Homo sapiens: one gene and its partners. The protein of the gene in region 3 purifies or fractionates together with the protein of the main gene of each other region. This does not show direct contact. Each region holds a gene or a part of one and is shown on either strand. Other genes may lie near its edges. The genes, in order: POGLUT1, SULF2, ATPAF1, MACROD1 and DNAJC17.

Region 1 (3,518 bases), on a different chromosome or scaffold from region 3:
TTACCTGTTCATCTAATTCTTAGTCCCAGAATTTTATTTTATTTCTCTTAGAGACAGGGTCTCACTATGTAGCCCAGGCTGGTCTTGAACTCTTGGGCTCAAAGGATCCTCCTACCTCAGCCTCCCGAGTAGCTAAGACTACAGGAGCATGCCAGCACACCAGGATAATAATTCTAATATTTATTAACTGAGAAATATTTATTCTAACTTCAATGATTGGGTGGGTGGGGCATATGGAGAGGTAATTCCATTACTGTGATTACTAGCTAGCATGCAGCTGTTTGGAAGCAGGAACCATGTTCCATTCTTCTCTACAGTCGCCACAGAACTCAGGTCAGTGCATTTAGGCCCTGAGGAAAAGCCAGTGAAATGAATTAATGCAACTTTCATTTACTCCAGCTGGGCCTTTATATTAAAGTTCTCACCCAAAGTGAAGCTATTTCAAAAGCAGTATGGAAACCAAGAAAGTGAGGAGTCCTGCAAATCTTACTTGTATTTGCAGTGATCCACAAGATGGACATCCTTAGCAGCTGGCTTTCCTAAGGTATCCTTTAAGTGGAAAGGAAGTTATTAGTATTAACAGCAACAGCATTTATTGTGATCACTGTGCAGCAAGCATTGTTAAACATTTCATCAACATTACCTCATTTAAGCTTCATAATCAATATACTCAGGAGACATTATTATTCCCATTATATAAATGCAGAAGCCAAGGCTTTGGAAGTTGAGATTTGCTCAAGGTCAGTGTGGCTCTAAATAGAAGACAGAGTTTTAACCAGGGCCCGTCTGATTTTAAAGTTTAAGCACACCTAAAGCCATGTTGCCCTCCTTTGAATTCAGATGTCACAGCCTGCAGCACACTTCACTCTGTGTAAATAATGTATGCAGAGAAGGTCCCAAGTGCTGGCTGATGGCCTTAGGGGTGTATATAGCCCATGCTCAAATTTTGTTGGGCATGCAAAGTATTTTTTTTTTTAAATCAAATCATTGCCAACATTTACAGGTGGTAGGATATTTCTTGCAAAAATCCAGATTTCCAGTCTTTCTTGGAGAATAAAAAGGAAGATCTGGCAAACTGGGCTCTTATTAACATTTGGAACTGTTAGTATTCTCTCTTGCTCACCTCTTGACATCACCTGCTGGCCCCTGGGGACATCTGAGTTTGACATCCCCAGGTACATTCCATCCACCTTAGCAGATGGTAAACTCCTTGATGAGGGGACAAGTTTTGTTTGCTTCTGCAGCCTCCCACAGTAGATGCTAACAACTTTTGTTCTAAATGAACACATTTTTTCATATTTTTATTATTCAACAAAGTTTCTTAAGCTCACTTGCTCCTGATTAAAACTGTATGAAATAATACATGCACCTCAGATTTACTTAGTTTTCTCCCAAGAAGTCTAAAGCTTTTCCTCATAGCATCCTCATATGGTATATGGAAATTTCATATAAAGGAAGTTTAGGGCTTTAATTTCTTTGATTAAGGCAAAAAGCCATAGAGTTAAGAGGAGAGAGTGGACTGTAAACCAACGGTCCCATTTCTGGCTTCACCTTAGAATCACTTGAAAAGTTTTAAACAAATGAAGATTCCTGGACACCATTCCCAGAGATTCTGACTCATTTGATTCATTTTCTTAAGCTCTCTGGTTGTATTGCACAGCCAGGGTTGAGACCATTGATTTAAACCAGGGGTTGGCAAACTACGACCCACAGGCCAAATTTGACCCACTGCTTGTTTTTGTCATGGACTAAGAAATTTTTACATTTCAAATGGTTAAAAAAAAAGGCAAAAGAATAATATTTTATGACAACTTAAAATTACATGAAATTCAAATTTCAGTGCCCATAAAGTTTTTATTTTTTATTATTTTTATTTTTATTTACTTATTTTTGAGACGGAGTCTTGCTCTGTCGCCAGGCTGGAGTGCAATGGCGTGATCTCGGCTCACTGCAATCTCTGCCTCCCAGGTTCAAGCGATTCTCCTGCCTCAGCCTCCCCAGTAGCTGGGACTACCGGCACATACCACCATGCCCGGCTAATTTTTGTGTTTTTAGTAGAGACGGGGTTTCACCATGTTGGCCAGGCTGGTCTTGAACTCCTGACCTCAAGTGATCCACCCGCCTCGCCTCCCAAAGTGCTAGGATTACAGGCATGAGCCACCATGCCTGGCCGTAATAAAGTTTTAATAAAAACACTGCCAGGCTCATTCATTTACAAACTGCCCATGTCTGTTGGCAACTGCAATAGAGACCATACGACCTGCAAAACCTACAACATTTACTATTTGGCCCTTCCTGGAAAAAGTTTGTGACCCCTGGTTTAAACCTTCAAAGTAGTGCAATATACTAGTCATAATATGGCCAGAAAAGCAATGTAAGTTTGAAAAAGGAGAATTTACATATATGCTAATGCTGGTTCATGGAACTTTCTTTACATTCACCTCACCACTGACAGGAAACCTAATCTCAAATTCTACCCAGGTGGCAATGTTCTTTGAGTGAGAATGTTCACTGCTGTAGTTCTAGTCAGATGACTGGTGATTACTTTCATAGATTTCCAGGCCTGGTTTTTGGTGTATTCTGCATCAACAAGTTTTGGGTTTTTCCGAGACAGAAGAATGAGAGGATCTCGTTCTGGACTTGTCCTATAAAAGAAACACGTGACATAAAACTGTGTGGCCTGTATTAGAAAACTGTTCCCAATCCCTGAAAGGTGAGCAGGACTAGGACCCAATGCAATGACTCTGCACAAGTGGACAATTCACTGGTGACGTGACAGCGGAGGAGGGGTATACTGGGTACTGCAGCATCTAGGTCATCCAGGGCTGGTCCCCTCTGTACCTTTAGGGTTGGGGGGTACTTGGCCCTTCTTTGCTTGCATTTGGTCTTGAAGGGTATGTTGTTCAGGTCACTATAGTCAAATCCCAGGGAATGATTTCCCTTTTAGGAAAGTTCATGTGGCTTCTATAATCACTGGTGCTCATAACTGTGAGGCTAGGTAGTCACGACTCACTAAAACAGCTACATGACCTTTGTTATGTATGCTCTGTACAGCCCAGTATAATATTTAATTTAAAAAAAATGCACAAAAACCAAAGGGCTTAAAAACCTGACGACTGTATGTGGAAGAATTTCTAGTGATGTTCCAAGTAGCAGAGGGTCTTGACATGTGAGGCATCATGGATTCCTTGATAATCTGTTAAGAACTATGAACCAACCCTCTCTCCTTCCCAGAAAAATGCACATATCCTCACATAATTTCAAGGGAGTCCTAAAACTCTTGAAGTCCAGACATGGTCCCCAAGTTAATTTGTGACTTCAAGATTTAAGAATCAGAGAAGTTGGTAAGAAACAGGACATAGTAGCTGGATAATCCATTTACCTCCTAAAGTCTAGCTCCGAAGTGAAGAGGAGGGTGAAGAGGGAGTATAATCTCTGGCAAGGACTCACTTGCTAAAACTACAAAACCCTGCTCCCTTCATGGTCTTTTCTATTCATCTGCTCCACAGATATTTATC
Region 2 (3,518 bases), on a different chromosome or scaffold from region 3:
CCACTGTGCCCGATCAGGAAGGAGATTCCAACACAGGCTACCATGTGGATGAACCCGGAGAACATTATGCGAAGAGAAATAAGCCAGCCACAGAAGGACAAATACTGTACAATTCCACTTACATGAGGCCCCTAAAGCAGTCAAGCTCATAGAGAAGAAGAGTGGTTGCTGAGAACGGGTGGGAGAATGGGGTGACAGCAGGGTGGGAGAGCGGGGTGGGAGAACGGGGTGGGGGTGGGAGCGGGGTGGGAGAATGGGGAGATAACGTTGAATGGGGACAGTTGTAGTTTTGCAAGATGAAGAGTTCATTTAGCAGATAGGTTGCGTACTAGTGGGAATATAGTTGACACTACTGGATACTTAAAAATGGTTAAGATGATAAATTTTATGGGAATTTCACCATAATTTTTTTTAAAAACAACACCTAAAATCTCTCATTAGGCTTTGGCTGTCCTTAGGCCAGAGAAATGGGCTACGTGGGAAGCTGCCCAGCCTTGGAGGGCACACTTCTAGCCGGCGGACCCCGACGCCTCCACACATTTTCAGGGCACAGGCTCATTCTTGTTTTAAAGTCATGCAGGGACCATTCTTCCTGTTTGATGGTGGGAGCTGAGCCTCAGAATGGTGAAGCGATGGCCCAGGGTGGCGGCTGAGCCTTCTGGCTGGGTCTAGAAGAGTCCCTCTCTCCACTTCGCCTGCTCCCTGGCTTCTGTCTGACTGTCCTCTCCTCGGCCCTTGCCGAGAATGAGGTGTGAAGGTGTAGACACTTCTTCAGCTGAGTGAGGCTTTTCCCCACTCAACTATAGTCTATTTTTGTTCTTCAGGGTAGTTTATTTTTTATTTTTTTTGAGACCGAGTCTCACTCTGTCGCCCAGGCTGGAGCACAATGGCGTGATCTCAGCTATCTGCAACCTCTGCTCCCGGGTTCAAGCGACTCTGCTGCCACACCACACGCCCAACTAATTTTTTGTATTTTTAGTAGAGATGGGGTTTCACCATGTTGGCCAGGCTGGTCTTGAACTCCTGACCTCAAGTGATCTGTCCACCTCGGCCTCTCAAAGTGCTGGGATTACAGGTGTGAGCCACCGCGCCCAGCCCAGGGTAGTTCTATAAACTCACCACAAACACTGACTAATTGAACGCTGAAACATGGCTCCTAGGGGAAGCACAGAGCTGGGTTCCTGTGAACCTCTGGTCCTAGCATTTTCACCAGCCAATCAATACAGAACCTTGTATGTGTGTTTCTTCCTTTTTTTTGAGATGGATCTCGCTCTGTTGCCCAGGCTGGAGTGCAGTGGCACAATCTCGGGTCACTGCAGCCTCTGCCTCCTGGGTTCAAGCGATTCTCATGCCTCAGCCTCCCAAGTAGCTGGGATTACAAGCGTGAGCCACCACATCTGGCTAATTGTTGTATTTTTAGACGGGGTTTTACCATGTTGGCCAGGCTGGTCTGGAGCTCCTGACCTCAGGTGATCTGCCTGCCTCGGACTCCCAAAGTACTGGGATTACAGGCGTGAGCCATTGCGCCTGGCCTTATCTGTTTATTACTACTGCTCCCCACTAGAATGGGTGGCTCGTGAGGAGATGTGGCTGTGTCCCCAGCCCCTAGATCACCACCTGGCAAAGTGACAGTCTCTGTGGAACTGTCGGAGTGAATGAATGGGGCCCCCCAGGCATGGTCTCTCTCCTCCTGTCCCACTCAGCCAGGTTGTGACACTTACTCTTCTTGAAGAGTTTTTTCCGGCGTCCGGCCAGGCTGAGCTTGTAGTCCCCGCTGTCACAGGTGCAGGCCTCGCTGCCCTGCCCGTAGTACTTGGGCACGAGGTTGGAGAGGGCTCTGCTGCCGCCCAGCCGCATGGGGCCCTTGCACTTATGCAGCTTCAGCTTCCCCGTGGCGTCCTCCACACACTGCCACTTCTGAAAGACATGCCAGGGCCTCGGCCAGCTGCTCATCTGCTCCCCTAAACCCGCCTCTCCCCTGCCACCCCCATCCACCCTGGAGACATCCCTCTCCCTGCTTGCATCCAGCTGTTACCGAGCCCCACCTCTGCTATCTCCAATGCCGCTTCTCTCCACTGCCACTGCTTGAACCTTGGGCAGAGCTACCATCATCCCCCAGCGAGATGCCTCCGACAGCCACCACTCTCACGGTTACCTGCTTCTGTCTGCTCCTAAAATCCACCCACATGGCAGCTAGAGGAATCTTTTTAAAGGGCAAGTTGGATCATATTACTCTCCTACTTAAAACCCTTCAATGGCTCCCACTGTCTTTAAGACAAGACCCAAGCTCCTGATACTAGTCTTTGAACATCCTCTGCAATCTGGCCCTGGCCTACCCATCGGTCCTCCTCTCCCTCAGCCCTCTCTCCAGTATCCCCTGTGGGCTGCTGCCCCAGGGACTTGGCGCTCACTGTTCCTTCTGCCTAGAATGCCTTTTCTCCAGCCCTTCCTGCTGCTGGAGGCTTCTCTTCCTTCCCGTCTGCTCCAGCGCAAGGAGGTCTCCCCTGACCACCTTCCCAGACTCAATCAGTGCAGTGTGTGCAGAGGCTCCACGTGTGCACTCAACTCCAGGCCTGTGGTCAGACGCTGAATGTAGATAGAATCACTGTCCAAATCTCTCGTGTTGATCCTTCTGCTCTTCCCCAGTTCCAGCCTCCTGGATCCCCTCACGGGATTCTGCAACCACCTGTAAACTGGATTCTCTTCCCTTCTGTCCACAGCTGCTCCAGCCCATTGACCCAGTGACTCTTTAGGGCCTATTCTGTGCCAAAGTGACCTTTCCAGGCCATGGGTCAGATCTGTTCCCTGTGTCTCTCCAGCACTTAGCATGTGCCAAGCACTGTGTGTTAATATATTAACTTGCTTACTACACCTCACGCTACCCTACGAGGCAGGTGCTGTCATTACTGTGCCGATTCAAGATGAGGCACACGGAGGTAGAGAGATGTGTCCTGGGTCACACAACTGGGAGGTGCAAGAGCTGTAAGGAAAAGTGTGGAGTCTGGTGCCACCATCCCCCCCAACCCTCTGCTGCACCGTCTGCCCCCGCCCGCTGCCGTTGAAGGCCCTGGTGCCTTTCACCTGCTCATCTTGCCCCTGTCCCGCCCATCTGTTCTCACCTGGAGGCTGAATCTAATTGCATTCACAGCGCCCTGCCACCCTCCCATCCCCTTCAATGCATGCAGGCCCTTCCAGCAACCTGGATTCCTTAGTGCAGAAGTAGACTGATGGGCCAGCAGGCATGGCCCTGAATGAGGCCAGCCCAGAAGCGCCTGGGGGACCTGGGGAGGCTAAAGTGGGCACTGTGACCGGCTATACCCATCTGACTGTCGCCAGAGGGGAGCACAGGCCCAGAAGCCCAGGTCTGATTTTTCAAGAAAAGCCAGGGCTCTGAGTTCTGCGTGAAGCCCTGAGCTGTGTGCGCTGGCGAGCAGCCTCCTGTCCACTTAGCTCTCTCTGCCTGGAATTCTCCTTCCCCACTGCCTGCTCCCCGCTCCAACCCAACAAACTCAGCTGGG
Region 3 (3,518 bases):
CTGCAAAGGACATGAACTCATGCTTTTTTATGGCTGCATAGTATTCCATGGTGTAAATGTGCCATATTTTCTTAATCCAGAGACTGGGTAATTTATAATGGAAAGAGGTTTAAGTGACTCACAGTTCCACAGGGCTGGGAAGGCGTTAAGAATCTTACAATCATGGTGGAAGGGGAAGCAAACACATCCTTCTTCACATGGTGACAGGAAGAAGAATGAGCAAAAGGGGGAAAAGCCCCCTATAAAACCATCAGATCTCGTGAGAACTCATTATCATGGGAACAGCATGGAGGTAACTGCCCCTATGATTCAATTACCTCCCATTGTGTCCCTCCCATGATGTGTGGGGATTATGGGAACTACAATTCAAGATGAGATTTGGGTGGGGACACAGCAAAACCATATTAGATATTATTGGCATGTTATAGGCAGCTCTTAAAATCCTGCTTCCAGAAAGTCTTCTACATGTGGAAGAGATAAGGTCTGTTGGATCTGACTATGGTATATACCAATCAGAAGTCCTACCTCTGCTTGACACTAACGAACAAGGAAGCTACAGTTGACCTTCATGATGCAAATACCAAAAGGTGGGGAATAAAAAAATTATATAATAAAATTTGAAAATTAGAAAACAGGGAAAAGGAAAAAATGCCCATAGTCCTACCACCCTAACAAAGACCACTGTTACTTTATTTCTTTCTAGCATGTCTTTTATAGTATACATAGATGTAGCATATATGCAATATTGTGTCTTTTCATTATTTACCATTAATATCATATGGATGCTCTGTGTTCTTATTTTTTACTACCTTTTTTTTGCCTTCCCATGCCTTTTTACATGTTATTGGCTCTGACTAGAAAGCCTCTCTCTCCTACCTCTGACCTCCCAAATTCTTCCTGTACTCTGAAGCTGAGCCTATATGCTTCTTCTTCCATGCAGTTTCCCTTGATATTACAGTCAGAAGTTTTCCTATGAGCTGCTTTTCTATTTTATTTATTTCCTCCCCCTTGCTTTCATATTTTATATCTCTCTTAAGATGCCTAGGATATGCTACTTCATAATAAGATCATTTGCATATGGATCTATTTCCCTCACTAGTTTGCAAGCCCCCTGTAGGCAGGTATCTGCTGTGTTGTCACCAATGCCTTGCAACCCAAAAAGTACTCAGAAATGCTGGTTGAATGATAGATGATTGTGAAATAATAAGAAACATGTAATCTAAAAGAGGCACTTAACCCAGGGTAGGGAAGAGTGCCAGAGGAAGGGACACTTGGAACTGTATCCTGAAGAATGATTAGGAGTTAGAGTAGGGAAATAAGGAGGCTGGGAAGATAACAGGTAGGGCAGGAGAAGGAGATAAGAGACACATTTGAAGCAGAGAATGACAACACTAACAAAGGCATAGAAGTAGAGGAGGGTATCATAACCAAGGTGACACCAGAGTGAGCTAGTGTTGAAGAATGGGTCAACTTCCTTTAGAGTTGGTCTGTTTTGTCAACATTTCTGTTAAAATATGGGGCCCCAATTGAAGATACTAATCAAAGTGTGATCCATCTAATCAACACAGAGCACAAAAGGACTATTAACTCCTAGGACCTATGGAAACTACTCTCAATGTGGCATAAGGTTGCTTTACCTTTTCTTTTTTTGCATGTCAAAACATTGTCTTCTCATTTTAAGGACAGCATATTCTGATTATTTTTATTTAATTTATGATATTAGCAGACAGTTTATGAATCAAAACTGAAATTCATGAGACTGATATATGTTTCCTTATATAGTTGAATTTAGCTACTCATTTCAACAAACACAAATTTATACCTAAAACTATAGGTCTCAATGATACTTGTCATATGATCAGGCCTCCTGGGCCTGGCTTCTTTTTCCCCTAAATGACATGTTTTGTGTCCATGTTCCTTTGGTACTTCTTCCCAAAGGCACAGCCAGAGTTCTCCCTGACACTTTGCATATGCCTCTATTAATAGAAAGAACCCTGTGCTGATCTGATCCGTTTTGCGGAGGCTAAAACTCCTTGGGGATGAGGATTCTCTCATTTATCTCTGTATCTGGCACAGAGTCTGACATTTAATTGGTATGCATTAAATGTGTGCTAAAATAAATGATACAGCATACAAAGGAAACCCATGGCAACTGGCACAACTTCCAGTTGTGGGAATATGATGCAGAGTCAAATAGACATGGGTTTGAGTCCCAGCTCTACCACTGACTAAGTTACATAATCTCTTTAAGTCACAGTTTCCTCAACTGTAAACTGGGAATAATGGCACCCACTTCACGGGGTGGTTAAGAGAATTTAATGAAATAATGCATATGAAGCATTAGGCATTGTACCTGATACAGAGTATGCTGCTTTTATTATTATTTTGATCCTCTCAATCTACCTAATGTATAATTCATGGAACTATAAAGAATGCCAGAAAAATAGCTTATTAGAGAGAAAAGAATCACAGGTATAAAAATATAAATGACCAAACAGGCAGGATAGCTCATGAGTGCTTTGAAGGAAAGTGTTCAGGAAGCTTCCTGAAGAAGGTCCTGTGATAATGGAGAGCTATGAATGCCCAGAAAAGGAATACAGGAAGTCACTGAACATTTGTGACCAGGTTCCTAATACATTTTTTTCCCATTTTTTAAAAAACATAAATATAGCACTTACTCTATGCCAGGGACTGTTCTAAGTGATAATAAATGTTAACTCATTTAATTATCCAAATAACTCTATGAGGTAAGTGCTATTATTTGCTCCACTTTAAATAGGGAAACTAAAGCCCAGACAAGTTGATTAACTTGTCCAAGTCCTATAGATAGTGGCAGAGCTAGGACTTAAAACCGGCAGCTTGGTTCTAGAGTCTGTGTTTTTAAACCAATACACTATACTTCTCCATAATGAAAGGAGAAGTTTCAGAGGACTCAGTTGATGAGAATATTATGGGTGGAGTGGAAAAAAAAGGAGAAGGGAAACCTATTTGGAAAGGTAGTGCAGTAATCCAGGTACAGAGTACTGATGAGGGTTACACGAGATGTGGATTATGGGAATGAAAAAGAAACTAGACATACAAGTTGATTAGACATATAAGAGTGACAAAGAAGACAAGTTTTCTTATGACATTGTTCTTCAAGTAATTCATCACTTTTGCCTTTTATTATTACCTTTCATTGTGGCTAGAAAGAGGTGTCAGAAAATGTACTTTCAGATTTGGTTCACAGAATTCACATTTTCATAGAGTAGGCCAGCCCATTTCCATTCATTACCTGTTTTATTTCTTCTGCAGTTTTTTCTTTTACCATCTCAATGTTAAAGATTGAACTGAGAGTCTTGAAAGAGACAATAAAAAGCAATTAACACATAATTAAAAAAAAAAAAAAACAGCTTAACTCTATCTCTAAGCCTGTGGCAAACATGTCAGGACAATGAAACAGATTTCCAAAAGTAGAAAACAAGTATAAGAAAACCCACATGCTCAGAGAAAGTGAGCCCCCAAGCCTAGACAGGTTT
Region 4 (3,518 bases), on a different chromosome or scaffold from region 3:
TTTTTTTTTTTTTTTTTGAGATGGAGTTTTGCTCTTGTTGCCCAGGCTGGAGTGCAATGGTGTGATCTCAGCTCACCGCAACCTCCGCCTCCCAGGTTCAAGCGATTCTCCTGCCTCAGCCTCCCGAGTAGCTGGGATTACAGGCATGTACCACCACACCCGGCTAATTTTGTATTTTTAGTAGAGATGGGGTTTCACCATGTTGGCCAGGCTGATCTCAAACTCCTGATGTCAGGTGATCCACCTGTCTCGGCCTCCCAAAATGCTGGGATTACAGGTGTGAGCCACCATGCCCGGCCGCTCAGCTGATTTTTTGTATTTTTTGGTAGAGATGGGGTTGCTCCATATTGTCCAGGCTGGTCTCGAACTCCTGGGCTCAGGTGATTGGCTTGCCTTGGTCTCCCCAAGTGCTGGGGACCCAAATAATTAGAAAAGTTCCTCCGGCTGCTGTGTCCCCAAGTTGGAAAAAAAAGTTCTCCACAATTTTGTCCTGTTTGCTTTGTTCTCTTTGGGCATTATTTAGCCGCCAGGAAGGAGTGAGTGTGTCTGGCGTGTAGACCGCACTTTGCAGCACACAGCCACCTTCTCCTTTGACCCTCCCAGCAAGCCTGGGTGTTAGCAAGGGAAGGCCTGCCTTGTCCCTATTCCAGAGATGGGAAAACCCAAGGCTTCAAACTGAGCATGGTGTTGGGAGGTCACGAACCCAAACCTGGCGGGACCTATAACAGAAGAAAAGGCGCAGCCTGGGTCTAGGCCGGCTGCCACCAGCATCTGTCCGTCCTCAGACAGGGAGGCAGACCTGGAGAGACCGACTGGCCTCACTTTCTCCACCCAAATGCTCTCTCTCTTTTTTTTCTTTTTTAATTAGGGGATCATCTCTGGCTCCCTCTTACCTCTGGGCTTTTGCACATACTGTTCCCTCTGCCTAGAAGACTCTGTACTTAGCAAACTCGCCCTCAACCTTTGGTCTTGGCTCATTTATTCCTCAGCGTGCCCCTCAGGCACCCTCAGGTGCCCACACACCGTGCCAGGTGGTGGGAATCTGATGGCAAACACAGCAGATCCCCTATGGAACCTACAGGTCAAGATGGCCAAGATCAAGAAAGGGGGCCGGCGCCGTGGCTCACGCCTGTAATTCCAGCACTTCGGGAGGCTGACATGGGTGGATTGCTTGAGGTCAGGAGTTCAAGTCCAGCCTGGCCAACATGGTGAAACCCCATCTCTATTAAAATACAAAAATTAGTTGGGTGTGCTGGCACACGCGTGTAATCCCAGCTACTAGGGAGGCTGAGGCAGGAGAATTGCTTGAATCCAGGAGTGCAGGTTGCAGTGAGCCAAGATCGTGCCACTGCACTCCAGCCTGGGCGACAGAGTGAGACTCCGTCTCAAAAAAAAATAAAAGAATAAGTGTAAACAAAAGCAAACTATCCCATATCCTGCAGAGCACAGCAGGTACAAAGGGCCTGGGGCAGGAAGCAGCCTGGCTGTTTGGGGAACTGGTGTAGTGGGGGAGGCAGCATTGGGAGTGAGGTGGGAGAGAGGCCAGAGGACCGGCGTTTGAATGCAGTTTTGAACAGAGGAGGGATGGCACCTGATTTATGTTCCCAGGATCCATGGCTGCCGGTCAAGGAACAGATGGGGATGAGATGCACACGGAGATCAGCTGGGAGTTGGGAGCGTCTGTGGGATCTAGGGAGCCATGAGGAAGGCTCAGTCCTGGAGGGTGAGAGGAAGGCTTGGTTTCTAGGGTGTCACGGGGATCAATCCAAAAGAGGATGGAAAGGGAGGGACCCCTGGTGCAGGGTCTCGAGTAAAAAAGAGGGAAGAATGGAGCAACAAAAAAATGACGTTTTGGGGGAAAGAGTCAAACGTTCTGTTTTGCATGCCTGGGCTTTGGGGAATGAGAGCAGGCAGGCACTGTGGGGGTCAGAGGCTCAGAAGAGAGTGGAGGGACAGCCCCGGAGGTTGCTTGCTTAAAGAGCGTTTTGAATCTGTGCAACTGATTAGAAGACCTAGGGAGGAAAGCAGCAAGGACACTTCCTGTCCACAGGGAAGGCAGGAGGGGCCGCTGCATGGGGTGTGGTGACCTTGACCTTGTTGGAAGGAGGGACCAGACTGGGTGGACTGAAGGGAGCATGGGAGGGAAGAAGTGGAGACAGCAGAGGAGGGGGCAGCTGCAGGGGCGTGGAATGCGGGCGTTGAGGGAGGGGACGGGATTATTTGAGGGCAGGCAGGACAGCCTGGTGGAGGGGGACCTGCAGCAGTGAGTCCTCTGGGAGGTGGGCTTGGCAGGTGGCAGCGCTGGTACTGAATGCAGGACCTACTCGTGCCCAAACATGTTTATGGAAGAGGGGGCAGAAGTGGCTGCCAGGAAAGGTGGCTCTGGCTTGAGCAGCAGTGGGGGCTGACCAGGGGTGGGCCTAGCCTTTTGTGATGACCCCACCTTTGCATCCAGCAGGGACTCTGGACTGGGCCCCTTGCATGAGTTCTGTCATCTAATGCTCTCAGCATCCTTGGGTTGTTATCACCCCTGCCAGCAGTGGTTAGATGAGGAGATGGAGGCCTGGATGATGAAGTGACTCTGGCCGGGAAAACACCCTGCTGTGTGAGGGTGGCCTCCCAACCTCCCTGAACATTTGTGGAGGGACCTACCTGTCCCCCTCACTGCCATGTGCATAGAAGCTTCCAGGCTGCAGTCCTTCCTTTCTCACCACCTCCTCTAATTGCTCTCCCGCCTCTACATATTTTTTGATGCTTTTTGAGTTTCTCAATTGTAGCCTTTGCTGTTTGCCGTGGGGGCTGCCCCATCCCGGGAGCCTGTGGTCCAGGGTGCCAGGCTGGGCTGAGCGCCTGGGTGTGCAGGCGGCCTCGGGCCAGCAGGGGGAGCCCGTGAGCTGCTAGCCTGGCCTGGCGCGGTCGGGGCGGGCCCTTCTGAGACGGGTTCCAGGTTTCTGTGCCTGGTGCCACCCCCAAGGGAAGGCGGAGCCCATGGGACAGTGCTCAGGCAAGGGGAGCCGGCCAGGGTGGACCCCGAGTCTGTGAGCGGGTGGGGGGTGCCTGGCTCCTCACTCAAGTCCCTGCTGTGTGAGGGTGGCCTCCCAACCTCCCTGAGCCCCGGTTTCCTCATCTGTAAAACGAGAACGATTCCAACCCCATTGGTCATGCTGGGAGCCCTCAGCCGCTGCCGGGGGGGATGTTGGGGACAGGTGCCAGGTCCACTTGGTCCTGCAGCTCCTGGAGGAGGACAGCTGTCCCGCTGCCTGCATGCAGTGACAGTGAGGGCAGAACTGACTGGCGGTGGGACTGATGGATAATGTCGCTGGCTGAGTGCTGCCAACCGGCTTGGCCTTAGTGTGTGGGAGGAAGCTCGGAGCTGTTCTGCAGGGGACGTCTTCACCCCCGTTCTAATCAGGGAGAAACGGGGGACCCAGAGAGATGTGGACGCTGCTGGAAAGTGGCAGAGCTGAATTCATCACAACCCAGGTCTGCGATGCCTGAGCCAGTCCCTCAGCCTCCCC
Region 5 (3,518 bases), on a different chromosome or scaffold from region 3:
GACCACCAGGTCCATCCTCCCCCACCTCCTCCTCCTGCAGGTGGCCTTCTGGCCAGTGTGCCTGAGTGCTCACCTCTTGCTCTAGTGTCCTGGTGCTCCGGCTCTCCTCTTCCTCCTCACTCTCCTGGGCCTGGGCCTGCCGCTCCCGGGCCTCCAGGTCTAGACACAAGGGTTGAATGACCAGACTGCTGGTCTGTTCAGTTTCCATGTGGCCTCGGCCCACCCCAGCTCTGGCTGCCTCCCCAAAGTCTCAATCACGACGAGATCATACAGTAACTCTGCCCCCTCCCTCCATGCCCACGCCCCCGAGTCAATTTCCATTGAGAAAAATCACAGCACAGAAGTATGGGGTCTAGCAGAGTGGCCAGGGGTCTGGAAGAGTTAAAAACAGCTCACACTGACCAAGCTGGTTCTCTCTAGTGAACAGGGTGTGGGTGGTGCTTATGTCAGCAGCCCAGGGCCATGTGTCAGGGGTGCCAATGGGCGGAGCTGCTGGGCTCGATTCCTGTGGTTTGGCACCACAGCTTGACTTGCTTTGGCTTTGATTCTTTTCACACACTGAGCTCAGGTTCTCACTGTCTCCTTTACCTCCCACCTCAACTCACATTTACCAAGCCTCACTGTGGACCTGGCTACAGGGATGGGCAGAGTGTTAGGGCATCACCCCGGGTCCTGGATTGTGTGAGGGCGTTACCTTCCAAGAGAAACCTGCTTGCAACCATGTGCCAGGCCAGCTGCTGTGAGAAACCCTTCTCTTAGTCCAGAGAAGTTTGTGCACTTTACTTACTTAGACTCTCCTTTTCTCTCTCTCTCTTTTTTTTTTTTTTTTTTTGAGATGGGGTCTCCTGGCACTTGCTTTTCTTTTAATATAGAAATAGATATTGGGATGCTATATGCACATATTAAAATATATGGATGTTGAAGAGCAAGAGGAAAAGGAGAAACTTGAGTAAAGAATGCTTGGACTGGGCCAGGCGCGGTGGCTCACGCCTGTAATCCCAGCACTTTGGGAGGCCAAGAGGGGTGGATCACCTGAGGTCAGGAGTTCGAGACCAGCCTGGCCAATGTGGCAAAACTCCGTCTCTACTAAAAATACAAAAATTAGCCGGGTGTGGTGGTGCGCAACTTAGTCCCAGCTACTCGGGAGGCTGAGGCAGGAGAATCGCTTGAACCCAGGAGGCAGAGGTTGAAGTGAGCCGAGATCGTGCCACTGCACTCCAGCCTGGGCAACAAGAGCGAAACTCCGTTTAAGAAAAAAAAAAAAAGAGTGCTTGGACCATGCTGCTATAACCAGTGACTTTTTTTTAAGTGAGAAAAAAAAAATGCTTGCAGCAATCTTATTGGGTTGATGAAAATGTTCCAAATCTGATTTATAGTCAGAGTTGCATCATTTAGTAAATTTACGAAAAATCATTGAAGTGTACACTTGAAATGGGTTGATGTTGTGATATACAAAGAATACCTCAATAAAGCTATTAGAGAAGAGAAAGCCTGGACCTCTTTGAATCCTTCTGAGGGAGCTTCTCAAAGTGAAAAGTCTGGGTAGGAATTGGGGTTAGAACAAATTAAAAGACCCAGCCGGGCACAGCGGCTCGCACCTGTAGTCCCAGCTACTCAGGAGGCCAAGGCAGAAGGACTGCTTGAGCCCAGGAGTTTGAGGCTGCAGTGAGCCATGATGGTGCCACCCTAGCCTGGGTGACAGTACAAAACCCCGTCTTTCTTTAAAAAAAAAAAAAAGAAGAAGAAGACTCAGCCAGAAATGGTGAATACAAGCACCAATTTTTTTGTTTTGTTTTGTTTTTTGAGATGGAGTTTTGCTCTGTCACCCAGGCTAGAGCACAGCAGCGTGATCTCAGCTCACTGCAACCTCTGCCTCCCGGGTTCAAGCAATTCTCTGCCTCAACTTCTCGAGTAGTTGGGATTACAGGCACCCGCCACCACACCCAGCTAATTTTTGTATTTTTAGTAGAGAAGGGGTTTCACCATCTTGGCCAGGCTGGTCTCGAACTCCTGACGTCGTGATCCACCCGCCTCGGCCTCCCAAAGTGCTGGGATTACAGGCGTGAGCCACCGCGCCCGGCCACAAGCACCAATTTTACTCACACTGGATAAGTTTAAATCCCACCTCCAGCAAGCTCTTAAACTTTTGGTGCCTTAGCTCCTTTGCCTATAAAAAATGGCTTCAGAGGCCAGGTGCGGCAGCTCACCAGCTGTAATACCAGCACTTTGGGAGACTGAGGTGGATAGCTTGAGGCCAGGAGTTTAAGACCAGCCTGGCCAACATGGTGAAACTCCATCTCTAAAAAAACGGAACAAAATTAGCCGGGCGTAGTGGTGCATGCCTGTAGTCCCACTATCGTGAGGCTGAGGCACAAGAATCGCCTGAACCCAGAGGGTGGGGGTTGCAGTGAGCCGAGATCATGCCACTGCGCTCCAGCCTAGGTGACAGGGTGAGACCCTGTCTCAAAAAACCATGTTCTTAAAAAAGGTTTAGTACCCACACTTCCTTGTATAGTTATGATAATTAAAGGGACAATAAGGCATTTGTCACAATGCTTAGCTAATATTAAACCTTATTATTGTTATTATTCCTAAGAGTGTCTTTAGGAACCAACCTCTAAGAACAGCGTTTTGCCCAGAGCCTGAGCCAAAAGGCTTTGAGATGAGTTGCTGGAAGTGAAGCTTCAGGTGAGGGAGATGAATGAAAATGACCACAGGAAACCACAGGCCACCGAGCACTATGATGGCACCTACCAAGCTTCACTTTCTTCCTTTTCTCATCAAGTTTCTGGGTCCTCTCTGCTGCTTGCTTCTTGGCTTTCCTGACCTTGTCATATGCAGCCTGGCAGGAGAAAGGGGCACAGGGCAGAGGGTCAGTGAGAGAGTAAAGACAGAGCCCCGGCAATCTGCCTGGCCCCTAGCCCACGAGCCATCAGAGTGGCAGCCTGGTGACTGGGTCTCCTGGGCTTAGACAGCAAGGACTGTGCCACATGGCAAAGGGCAGAGGACCGAGGTTGAGAGGCAGCAGTGGTCTCTAACCATGGGGGACGATTCCGATGAAGGAGGCTGTGCTTACCCTGGCTGCAGCATCGGTCAGCACCTCCAAGGCCTGAGAAAGCTGGTGGAAGAGTTCAGCTAAACATAAGGATCAAAAAGACAGAAGAAAAATAAAGTTAAGACTTCGTAATGGTGTGCTCCCTCAAAAAAAAAAAAAATCTTCAAAGAAGTCACAGGATGGCAGACAAGCCGACATCAGCAGATGACAGACCAACAAGGAGGGGTGAGCATATCAGCAACTGACCAGACACCCCTCACAGGAGGGAAGCCCTGGGACCCATTGCCTGGAGCCAGGCAATGTGTGCTTACACCCCACAGCACTCACATGCAGAGCTTACATCGGGAAACACAATGCCCGGGTGAGTGGGTTTCTTTCTCCCCACGCCCTGAGAAGAGTCTCACCTGCTCTGGGATTATCTGGATTTTTGTCTGGGTGGCAGGAGAGGGCCTTCTGCCTATAC

What was found.
Region 1: the proteins of ATPAF1 (region 3) and POGLUT1 fractionate together in Homo sapiens (co-fractionation; one large-scale study listed by BioGRID). This does not show direct contact.
Region 2: the proteins of ATPAF1 (region 3) and SULF2 purify together in Homo sapiens (co-immunoprecipitation; one large-scale study listed by IntAct). This does not show direct contact.
Region 4: the proteins of ATPAF1 (region 3) and MACROD1 purify together in Homo sapiens (affinity purification with mass spectrometry; one large-scale study listed by BioGRID and IntAct). This does not show direct contact.
Region 5: the proteins of ATPAF1 (region 3) and DNAJC17 fractionate together in Homo sapiens (co-fractionation; one large-scale study listed by BioGRID). This does not show direct contact.

The regions. Positions count from the first base shown.
Region 1 is NC_000003.12:119,485,960-119,489,477, reverse strand, and holds part of POGLUT1 (protein O-glucosyltransferase 1 precursor), read right to left. Parts: intron 2,646-3,518; coding exon 2,546-2,645; intron 550-2,545; coding exon 491-549; intron 1-490. UniProt on the Homo sapiens protein: Dual specificity glycosyltransferase that catalyzes the transfer of glucose and xylose from UDP-glucose and UDP-xylose, respectively, to a serine residue found in the consensus sequence of C-X-S-X-P-C.
Region 2 is NC_000020.11:47,670,477-47,673,994, forward strand, and holds part of SULF2 (extracellular sulfatase Sulf-2 isoform a precursor), read right to left. Parts: intron 1,918-3,518; coding exon 1,722-1,917; intron 1-1,721. UniProt on the Homo sapiens protein: Exhibits arylsulfatase activity and highly specific endoglucosamine-6-sulfatase activity. It can remove sulfate from the C-6 position of glucosamine within specific subregions of intact heparin.
Region 3 is NC_000001.11:46,654,853-46,658,370, forward strand, and holds part of ATPAF1 (ATP synthase mitochondrial F1 complex assembly factor 1), read right to left. Parts: intron 3,338-3,518; coding exon 3,275-3,337; intron 1-3,274. UniProt on the Homo sapiens protein: Has a complex stabilizing activity in the assembly of the mitochondrial F1-F0 complex.
Region 4 is NC_000011.10:64,152,608-64,156,125, reverse strand, and holds part of MACROD1 (ADP-ribose glycohydrolase MACROD1), read left to right. Parts: intron 1-3,518. UniProt on the Homo sapiens protein: Removes ADP-ribose from aspartate and glutamate residues in proteins bearing a single ADP-ribose moiety. Inactive towards proteins bearing poly-ADP-ribose.
Region 5 is NC_000015.10:40,776,469-40,779,986, forward strand, and holds part of DNAJC17 (dnaJ homolog subfamily C member 17), read right to left. Parts: coding exon 3,460-3,518; intron 3,136-3,459; coding exon 3,077-3,135; intron 2,843-3,076; coding exon 2,755-2,842; intron 160-2,754; coding exon 74-159; intron 1-73. UniProt on the Homo sapiens protein: May negatively affect PAX8-induced thyroglobulin/TG transcription.